Linked DNA regions of Homo sapiens. The protein of the gene in region 2 purifies or fractionates together with the protein of the main gene of each other region. This does not show direct contact. Each region holds a gene or a part of one and is shown on either strand. Other genes may lie near its edges.

What was found.
Region 1: the proteins of SAMTOR (region 2) and SHMT1 purify together in Homo sapiens (affinity purification with mass spectrometry; 2 studies listed by BioGRID and IntAct, with this or other methods). This does not show direct contact.
Region 3: the proteins of SAMTOR (region 2) and SZT2 purify together in Homo sapiens (co-immunoprecipitation; 3 studies listed by BioGRID and IntAct, with this or other methods). This does not show direct contact.

What each region holds. Positions count from the first base shown.
Region 1 is NC_000017.11:18,353,468-18,357,118, forward strand, and holds part of SHMT1 (serine hydroxymethyltransferase, cytosolic), read right to left. Parts: intron 2,534-3,651; 5' UTR 2,515-2,533; coding exon 2,419-2,514; intron 351-2,418; coding exon 205-350; intron 1-204. UniProt on the Homo sapiens protein: Interconversion of serine and glycine.
Region 2 is NC_000007.14:112,929,734-112,933,384, forward strand, and holds part of SAMTOR (S-adenosylmethionine sensor upstream of mTORC1), read right to left. Parts: intron 1-3,651. UniProt on the Homo sapiens protein: S-adenosyl-L-methionine-binding protein that acts as an inhibitor of mTORC1 signaling via interaction with the GATOR1 and KICSTOR complexes.
Region 3 is NC_000001.11:43,441,849-43,445,499, reverse strand, and holds part of SZT2 (KICSTOR complex protein SZT2), read right to left. Parts: intron 3,501-3,651; coding exon 3,370-3,500; intron 3,233-3,369; coding exon 3,132-3,232; intron 3,059-3,131; coding exon 2,882-3,058; intron 2,682-2,881; coding exon 2,414-2,681; intron 2,313-2,413; coding exon 2,233-2,312; intron 2,149-2,232; coding exon 2,023-2,148; intron 1,904-2,022; coding exon 1,704-1,903; intron 1-1,703.

The DNA.
Region 1 (3,651 bases), on a different chromosome or scaffold from region 2:
GCCCCTGAGTACACCTGCGCTGAGCTCTTCAGTGTTATCACATGCTGGGAATAAAAGAGTTCTGTCAGAGAGCAGGCGTGGAACAGAAATCCTACAGCTGGGAAGCTTATTGTTTTCTGAAATTTCCAAATTGTTTAGGTCCTAGGCTGACTGAGTACTCCCTATGACTGTGTCAGAACCAGGCCTTTGAAGATATTCACATACCTCTGGCCCGGGTACCCCTCAGAGTATTTGTTATTTAAGCAAGAGCCTAGGGCCTCCAAAACTGCTCGGCTGGCGAAATTCTCCGAGGCAATCAGCTCCAATCCAACCCTCTGCCGGTTACTCTCCTTCTTAATGATGTTGTAAACCTTATGAGAAGAAAACAGATGCTTGATATTTGGAAATTTTAGTTTAAAATTTTGCTCTGATCCAAATTACAACCTCCTAAAGAGAAAAGACACTCTTTCACATTATGGAATAGAATGAATCCTCCTCAAAGGTTTTAGTATCTGAGAAAGCACTAATCAATGAATTAACAAAAACAAAATGATAGCCAGGTGCGGTGGCTCACGACTGTAATCCCAGCACTTTGGGAGGCCGAGGCTGGTGGATCACCTGAGGTCAGGAGTTCTAGACCAGCCTGGCCAATATGGTGAAACTCCATCTCTACTAAAAATACAAAACTTGGCTGGGCGTGGTGGCTCACGCCTGTAATCCCAGCACTTTGGGAGGCCGAGATGGGCAGATCACCTGAGGTCGGGGGTTCGAGACCAGCCTGACTAACATGGAGAAACCCTCGTCTCTACTAAAAAATACAAAATTAGCCGGGCATGGTGGCACATGCCTGTAATCCCAGCTACTCGGGAGGCTGAGGCAGGAGAATCACTTGAACCCGGGAGGCGGAGGTTGCAGTGAGCCGAGATCACGCCATTGCACTCCAGCCTGGGCGACAAGAACAAAACTCTGTCTCAAAAACAAACAAACAAAAAAACAAAACTTAGATGGGTGTGGTGGCAGGCGCCTATAATCTCAGCTACTCGGGGGGCCGAGGCAGGAGAATCGCTTGAACCTGGGAGGTGGAGGATTCAGTGAGCCGAGATCGCGCCATCGCACTCCAGCCTGGGAAACAAGAGCGAGACTTCATCTCAGAAAAAGAAAAACAAAATGATTGAAGAGAAAGTTATCTTTAAGTGTCCCACCTAATTTTTAACACCACCATCCTGTTATTTTTATTCCTACATTTCACCAAGTTTCTCCCTCCCTGAACCTTATTCCTTGTTCTTCTTCCTTAAAAGAAAAGATGCTTTAGGCCGGGCGTGGTGGCTCACGCCTGTAATCCCAGCACTTTGGGAGGCCGAGACAGGTGGATCACGAGGTCAGGAGATCAAGATCATCCTGGCTAACACAGTGAAATCCCGTCTCTACTAAAAAAAAAAAAATAATACAAAAAATTAGCCAGGGCGTGGTGGCTGGCACCTGTAGTCCCAGCTACTCGGGAGGCTAAGGCAGGAGAATGGCGTGAACCCGGGAGATGGAGCTTGCAGTGAGCTGAGATCGCGTCACTGCACTCCAGCCTGAGCAACAGAGCAAGACTATATCTCAAAAAAAAAAAAAAAAAAAAAAAAAAAAAAAAAAAAAGGCCGGGTGCGGTGGCTCACGCCTGTAATCCCAGCACTTTGGGAGGCTGAGGTGGGCGGATCACGAGGTCAGGAGATCGAGACCATCCTGGCTAACATGGTGAAACCCCACCTCTACTAAAAAATACAAAAAATTAGCCGGGTGTGGTGGCAGGCACCTGTAGTCCCAGCTACTCAGGAGGCTGAGGCAGGAGAATGGCATGAACCCAGGAGGTGGAACTTGCAGTGAGCTGAGATCACGCCACTGCACTCCAGCCTGGGCGACAGAGCAAGACTCTGTCTCAAAAAAAAAAAAAAAAAAAAATTAGCCGGGCATGGTGGTGGGTGCCTGCAATCCCAGCTAGTCAGGAGGCTGAGGCTGGAGAATCCCTTGAACCCAGGAGGTGGAGGTTGCAGTGAGCCAAGATCACGCCATTGCACTCCAGCCTGGGCAACAAGAGTGAAACTCTGTCTCAAAAAAATAAATAAACAAGTAAAATAAAATAAAATAAAGGTGCTTTCAGATGTCTAGATAGATCTATATTCCCTGTGAACTGTCAGGAAAGGGTCAACTGTCAGTGATCTCTCCCCTTCTCGCTTTTCTCCAGAGCACCCTGCACAGTGCTCCACACTTTGAAGAAACCCAGCAATCTTTAAATTTACCCTCAAAGGATTTGTAGCCATTTTGTCTGCCACCACCTCTAAATCCAGCAGGATAATACTCATTTCAAGGCTGTCCCTAATTAATTTGTAATTAGAACTAAAGATTAAATGAAGGCCTCCAACATAAAAAAATCTGTGAAGACCCCAAAAATCTCACCTCAACATCACTGTCTTTGAGGGGTTGTGCCAGCATCTTGTCATGTGAGGACCACAGGTCAGCATCCTTGTGGGCCCCGTTGACTGGCATCGTCATTGCACTGGTTCGAAGCTGCCTAAAAAAATGGGAAAAACATGTGTAGCTTCCAGAATTAAATTTATTTATTTTATTTATTTTTTATTTATTTTTGAGATGTAGTCTTTGTTGCCCAGGCTAGAGTGCAGTGGCATGATCTCGGCTCACTGCAACCTCCGTCTCCCAGGTTCAAGAGATTCTCCTGCCTCAATCTTCTGACTACAGGCGCATGCCACCATGCCCGGCTAATTTTTTGTATTTTTAGTAGAGACGAGGTTTCACTGTGTTAGCCAGGATGGTCTCAATCTCCTGACCTTGTCATCCGCCCACGTTGGCTTCCCAAAGTGCTGGGATTACAGGTGTCAGCCACCGCGCCCCACCTATTTATTTTTATTTTTTTGAGACAAGACTCTCACTCTGTCACCCAGGCAATGGCGTGATCTTGGCTCACTGCAACCTCCGCCTCCTGGGTTCAAGTGATTCTCCTGCCTCAGCCTCCTGAGTAGCTGGGACTACAGGCGTGCGCCACTACGCCTGGCTAATTTGTGTATTTTTCGTAGAGATGGAGTTTTATCACGTTGGTCAGGCTGGTCTTGAACTCCTCTCAAGTGATCCGCCTGCCTCGGCCTCCCAAAGTGCTGGGATTACAGGCGTGAGCCACCATGCCTGGCCGCAGCATTATATTGAATCAAAGCTCATCGAAACCTGTTAGTTCTATCAAGTTGATAAACTAACACTTTTTTTAGCCTTTCCCTCAGAATTGCTTGGTAAACACGAGCATGTTCTATTGCAAAACCACCATGTGGAACTTCTGGTTCCTTTCCAAACTGCAGACGTCAGCTCATCTCCCTCAGAAATGAGAACTGACCCTCCTCCCCACCTGCAGGGAGCCCAACTCCGCCTCCTCTCAGCCAAACTTCTCATGGATATAGCTTATCTCCCACAACTAAACTAAGTTCCTTGAAGGTAAGGACTGAGTGCTACTTTTTAAAAAATCTCCTGCGGTACCCAACACTGCTATACATGAAGAATATTTTCCGGCCGGGCACGGTGGCTCACGCCTGCAATCCCAGCACTTTGGGAGGCCGAGGTGGGCAGATCACAAGATCTGGAGTTGGAGACCATCCTGGCCAACCTGGTGAAACCCCATCTCTACTA
Region 2 (3,651 bases):
GACTGCAAAGAAGTATGAGAAAATTTTGGCAGTGATGAAAATGTTCTACGCCTTATTGTGGTAATGGTTTTACAGAGATGCATGCATTGTCAAAACTTACGGAATTATATACTTTAAAAAGACACAATTTACTGTACATGAATCATATCTCAATAAATTTAATTTTTAAAAATGATGTGCCACAAGCATGGTATATGTTACAAAATTAAGATTATATTTCATTAAATTTGAGGGCCATCAAATTCTCTAAAAAAGCAAAAAAATACATGAGTATCAAAAGTCTTAAACTTTTAGAAATTCAGAACAATTTATTTGATTCTGACTTAGGCATATTGCCAAATACGGGCCCTAAGATGCCTTATCTGTAGATGACAAGACTACCAAATTCAAGTTCAAAGTACCTTTAATGGTCATTTTCTCTAACACAAGGTAAGTAAAGAAACTCATGACTAAGTGCAAACAAGTTCAGCTACCATTTCAAGGCATTAAAACAAAATGTTCAGAATTCAGATTGTCTTACATAGTTAAGCCATACAACGACCAGTCTTCTCAGCTCTTGAGCACCTGATACAGTGACACATCTAAAAGTGGGATAAAAAACATCCAAGGTGTTTGGTAATTAAGAGCCAAAAAGTAACCAGAAAACAAAAAGTTTGAAAACCTGCATCTTATAGCCAACATGTTATGAATAGTCATTTCTCTAATGTGGGAAGAAAACACCACCAATATTCTGACATGCTAAAAAGGTTGGACTTTTCATATAAAAACTTAGAAACACAAACAGCAAAAGGGGCAAAAAAAAAAAAAAGAAGAAAAAGAAAAAGTCATTTTAATACTGAGAAGACTACAGAACAGTCTAGGTAAAAATTCCAGGAGCCATCCAGTCTTTAATGTCATAGTCCTTAAATGCATTGAAGCAGTATAGCTACAGATAAAAGAGCTGTTATTTTTAAATTTCTGTATTTTACAAGCTTAGTGTGTTTCCTATATGCCAAATGTTGTTTTAAGTGCTTTTCAAATATTAACTCATTTAATTATAATACCAATCCATTGAGGCAGATATTTTACTTTATAGATGAGGAAACTGAAGTAGAGCGATTAAGTAAACTTTTCCAAGGTTACACAACAAACCTGGTAGTCAAAAGCTAAAGTCATGCTCCTAACCACAAACTTTGCTTCTCTTCATAAGTTTTTAATTCATGAACTTTCATGGATATGAGCAAAGCTTTGCAACAGAGGAAAGTACACAGACTCTACTAACCACAAACAAATGGTCTTTTGTCAGTCAAATGCAGTTATTTAGTCTCTGCAACTGCATTATTTGTTAGATTTCTGGCAGTGGTTCTCAACTCTGGCTGCCAATTCTGGCTGCACATTGGAATCACCCAGAAGTTTCATTTAACTGGTCTGGAGTGGCAACTGGTCATTTAGTTTAACACTCCCCGGATGAATCCAACGTGTAGCTATGGCTTAAAACCAATGGTGTATAGCAAGGTTGTGAGCTTAAAAGCCTGGCAAAATAATATAGAGAGCAGGGGGTTGGGACAACCTTAAGAGTCCAATTTAATTAACAAAAAAAAAAACACAACAAAACAAATCAATGCATGGATTAAACTTAATATCTACAAACACTGGCTCACGGTGTATCTTCTGTTCTTGGAACAGCCTTTTATTATAAACATATCAACGATAAAAATACTTACTCCAAAATGCAAGTCTGTGAACACATCCTATAAGGCAGATGGAAAGAAATCAAGAAAAATCATAACCAATGTCACCAACATGTTATTCCCTTGTGAAAGTGAACTTCACAGGTGGGTCTATGACCACACAGAGCACTTGCTTAGTTTAATTTTCAACTTTCAAACAAAAGGATTTATGAACAGCCTTTTGGAACTTAATTTTCATATGTTCAATTAAAAAGTCTTACCCTAATTTCTATATAAATGGAAATGGATACTCACATGCTGCTCTAAATGCATGAAGATTAACCACCTATTCTAAAATAAACACAGCAATGGGTATTAGTGTATCTACACTTAAAGCACAATAGGTCAGTATAGTTTAGTGGTTGTCAGATGTTAGATTTTGTAACTAGTATAAATTTCACTTCAAATTTAAGAGACTGATATATTGGGGTTGAAAAATTTTTATCTGTAAATATAAACAAATACACAAAACTATTACTTTTTTTTTTTTTTTCTTTTTTCGGGATGGAGTCTCGTTCTGTCACCCAGGCTGGAGTGCAGTGGTGCAATCTCGGCTCACTGCAACCTCCGCCATCCAGGTTCAAGTGATTTTCCTACCTCAGCCTCACAAGTAGCTGGGACTACAGGCACATGCCACCACACCCGGCTAATTTTTTGTATTTTTAGTAGAGACAGGGTTTCACCAAGTTAACCAGGATGGTCTCTATCTCTTGACCTCGTGATCCACCCGCCTCGGCCTCCCAAAGTGCTGGGATTACAGGCATGAGCCACCGTACCCAGCTCACTATTACCATTTTTATTACCAACATACAGAGAGACATACATTATACCCACTACAACATCCTTATGAGAACAAATAAAGATACCATAATGAGTGTAAGGATATATTTACCATTATATTTATAGAAAAATAGAATGCTATTCAGAATAACTTGGACCATTTAAAAAAGGGTAAAATTAATCTAATATACTCAATTTAAGAAGACATGAGCATAAATTAGAAAACATGGGTATCCACAAGTTAAAATTTTAAAGTTATGAATATAAAAAGATAAAACTCAACTATCTGGAAATATTTACATTAGCTTCTTCTGTGCGTGTGCCTTAAATCTACAAGGCCTGGTGCTATGTACTAAGGCTACAGAGATAAAAGGCAGAGTTTTACTCAAGAAACTAAGTTTAGTAGATAAAACAGACAAATGAACTGGTAAGTTATAAATACCATAAAGGTAGGCACAATCATGCTATGGAAGCACAAGGTAAGAGGGGCACTTAGGTAGGGGCACTTACTTATGTAGGATTCTGTGCTAGGTGCTGTACACAACTGTGTTTGTGGGGATGGGGTTTGTGATGATTAATAAAAACCCAGATCTTTGTTTCAAGAGTTTACATTACAATAAACTGGCCTAAAAGACCAACCACGAAGAGGTCATTTCAAAAGAGGCCTGAAGATCGGACTCTAAACCATAATCCTTAATAATCTAGATTTAAAGTTGTTAAAAACATTATGCTGCTAAACTTCCAGTACAACAGTACTTCTGATTTAAAGAGGAACATTTTAGAAAATTTTACTTGAATTGGTGGGGGAAGGAAGAGGGGCAGGGATAATGCCCAGGAGCCATCCAATCCTTAATGCTACCCTGAAGACATAAAGACAGAATAGCTACGGTTAACATCTCTATTATTTTTGTTACTTAAGGAGGGTAGGGATCCTGCTGCTTTTGCTAATTAGCAAGGACTAGTAAAAACAGGAGCTCCAAAAGTACTGTATGATAAAACAGCAAAGTCTCCACTTAATCGTCAAATGTGAACAATGTATGAGATTGCTCTAGGAAATTAACAAAAATACTGAAGAAGATATGATTATAATAGGAACTATGTGACAAATGTGCCTGACTTATTTAGACACTATAGAAATGGCTACCAAAAGATAGAAAACTAA
Region 3 (3,651 bases), on a different chromosome or scaffold from region 2:
TGGGGGGGATGGCAGTTCCAGGCTTTCAGAGGCCTACTGCTCGTTACAGTTTAGTGCAGAGGATAGGGGAGAAGGGAAGCAGGGGAGGGACTGGGAAGAAGGGACAGAACAGAAGGGGTTGGGGGGACCCACTCACGCCAAGGGGCTATAAACTGCCAGAATTCTTGCTGGGGGTCAAAACCTCTGGTGGAAAAAATGTCCCATTTAAACCTCAAGGAAACTGGGACAAGACTTAGTGATTGGTGATTGTTAAAGATTGGTGGGAAGGGAAGACCTGGCTTTAAATTTTGCTGTAGAAACATTTTTTTTTTTAACCCAGTGTCTAAAGGAATTCAGATTTGGGGGAAAGAGCATAACTTATGGCAAGTGTGCAAACTAAAGTCCTTTAGAGAAGCTCCTAGAGCTGGGAACTGGCTGTCAAGATAGCAAGCTGGGCAGCTCCTCCCCAGGGTAGGAGGGGCCAGCCTGGCCTCTGAGATGGGATCACAGGAGGGGCAGGCACGCCTTCTCTTCCTAATGCCTGGAAGAGAGGGAAACCTGGGGAGTGGGGAGCTGGTCACAGAAACATGAGAGAGTTGGAACTGGCATTTCTGGACTACTGGCTTGAAAAGGTTCTAACTGAAAACAGAGAGGAGGGAGAACATGCCTTGATAAACTCACAAATCTGGAGACACGAAAGTAGCTATGTGTAAGGTGAACAGCTCATTTTTCGCATACAGCCACTGGGAAAGGGCAGAGAACACAGAATCTGGAGAGGAACATAGAGCAGGGGCCACAAACACGGGAATCTGAGATTTGACAGTGGATGAAAAGGTGGCTGCAGAGTTGTCCCTGAGCTCAGGGGAGATGGAGGTGGCAACAGACGGGCTGCCTACTTCCCAAGACTCAGACCTGTCAGTACTGGCCAGTGGGTGAACATGACCAAGAACAGGCCAAGGACAGTGATGCAAGTAGGCCTAGCACAGAGGTCCTTGGTGAGAAAAGGACTTCCCTGGGCCGAGAACTACATCAAATCTCAGGAGAGGTCAGTGGGATGATAAGGACAGGAATCATTAAGTCCTAGATCCAGAGGCTTAGGAGCATGTACAAGATTCACATGTGCAGGCCGGGCGTGATGGCTCACACCTATAATCCTAGCACTTTGGGAGGCTGAGGTGGGCGGACTACCTGAGTTGAGGAGTTCAAGACCAGTCTAGGCAACATGGTGATACCCCATCTCTACTAAAATACAAAAAATTAGCCAAGCAGGGTGGCGTGCACCTGTAATCCCAGCTACTTGGGAGACTGAGGCACAAGAATTGCTCGAACCCAGGAGGTGGAGGTTGCAGTGAGCCGAGATCGCGCCACTGCACTCCAGCCTAGGCGACACAGTGAGATTCCATCTCCAAAAAAATTCACATGTGGGGATGTATGCAAGTGTGTAAGTGTACAAGATGTGTGTGGGCATGAGCTTTGTGAAAATGGACACAGTTTTGTATGAGTGTCATCATGAGTTCCATAAAGCATACAAGGTCTGCAGGACACGCATGAGGGCTGTGTGAAAGTATCTGAGACCCTCACATGAGTGCAAGCCTGGTGGGATAAACATGCACAGGCCCAGCCCAAATTGTCAACATAGGACCTTGTAAAGAGAGGAAGGGCCTGTGGGGCCTCACTTGCAGTGCAGGAGGAGAAGACAGAAGGGAAAACAGGGACGGGCTCACCTGCGGGCGGGTGAGGGGGGCCGCAGTGGTACCAGCACAAAACCTATGCTCTGCAGATACTGCACATATTGCTGCAGGAAAGCCAAGCTCAGCTCCTTCAGCCAAGGCTCCTCACGGGCTCCCGGGGGCGACACATCCAAGGATTCACAGCTTGTGGGGGCCTCTCGGCTCCCAGACCCTGACTCAGGGCGATGGCGCCGCTATGAGAGTAAAGATCAAGGAAGACTCTCCCCACTGTCAACCATCCTGCTGGGGATGGAGGAGGGGGGTCACTGTGGGGTAAGCAAAGGTCTGCTAGAAGTCTGGGAGTCAGCCTTACCTGCCCGTCAGGGGGTCCAGAGGTCTCTGGGGGCCCATGCAGCCAGGCAGCTGGGTCGAAGAGCATGGCTGTTGCACAGTAATGCACCAGGCGGGATGACTGCTTCAGGGTCTCCAGCTCTCCAGCCTGGGGAAACAGGGCAGTGAGCATGGAGCAGTGACGGGGCAGGATCACAGATACTCAAGGAAGATGCAAGCTGGGGTCACTCACACTGATGGGCATGGTGGCTGGGGTAGAACGCTGCTGCCAGGTTACAAACAGGTTTTCCATCTTCATCTGGCGCTCCAGCTCTGAGGGTTGAGGGCATTAGTAGTAGCCCCAGGCATTGTCACTCCCTTCCTCCCAGACTCCACAGATTTCCTGTCCCTGCTGCCTGGCCCAGTACCCTCACCTCTGCGCTCTGCCATCTTGATCTCTAGGAACTGTTGTCCATGGTAGGTGACAGGATCAGGAGGTCTGGGCACAGGACCAAGTACGGAGCTGGGGCGGGCAGCCGTGATATCCCTTAGGGCCTCGTCAAAGGGGAATGTGTCCAGGGGAAGAGGACCCCCACCACGAGAGGACCCACTCAGTCGGCCCTGCTCACGGCTCAGCGGGGGACTTGCACTCCGGATGAGGGTCTCCACTTCCATGGTCGGCAGCAGGAATGGGTTTGGCTCCTGAGAGATGGAGCATTGCAATGGGTTCATAGCCTTTGCCCTCGGACCCTCTCTCTCATCCCAGGGCTTCCTCTCTCAGACTCTCCCTCCCCACTACCTCTGCCCTCAGTCTGTCCCATCTTTCTGGCTTCTGAGCTGGTTTTTCCTTTAACTGACCCCTCAGTAGCCAAAACTATAGGAAGAACCAGAGCAGCAGGCACCTTTTCATCTCGCACGGGGAAGTCCAACTGGCCATAATGATGGAAGAGGCCAAGCTTCTGGCTGAGTAGGCAGAAGATGAGATGGGCTCGTGCATTCTGCCACTGCACCAGGCGAACCAGCGCTCGGCCCAATGCTGCCCCCAGGTCTGGAGCCCAGTTGTAGGTCAGCAGCTGTAGCTGGAGGTCGGGGGTCAGGGTCAGTGAGATCACGGAACCCCTCTTCCCACCCAGTCCCTGGCCCCATATTTACCTTCTTGTCCACAACCTCTAGTAGCAAGAGCCTCTGCCGGGGAGCATTTCGCCCTGAGCTCCCATCACCTCCTGGCTCGAAGCGCTGCATGGCTTTGGCAGCTACAGGGTGGGGGAGGGGCACAATAGGGGCCTGGGAACAGATCCCCCTTGATCCCACCCTCCCCTCTGCAAGGTTGGAGACCCCACCAGTTACTCTTAGCCTACCCGCCCCCCGCCCCCCCGGGCCATGCCCTCACCCTGCTGTGTTGGTCTCCTCCACTGCAAGAAGTTCCTTCCCAGAAGCAGCAGATGCCGCTCAGCTGCAGGGCGGGGAGAGGGGCCCAGTTGCCCAGGGGAACAAGGGCCGAAGATCTCTGGCTCTGAACCCCTATTGAAAGGGAGGACAGACAGAAAGGCCATCCATGACACCACTCCCTGGCCTAGCCTTCACCTCCCTGGGCCTTGTTTCCACCTCTCCTAGCTCAGCTTCCTCAGGTTTGGCTTCCTGTAGGCCCAGCTTTTAGGAAGTCTAGGGGAGT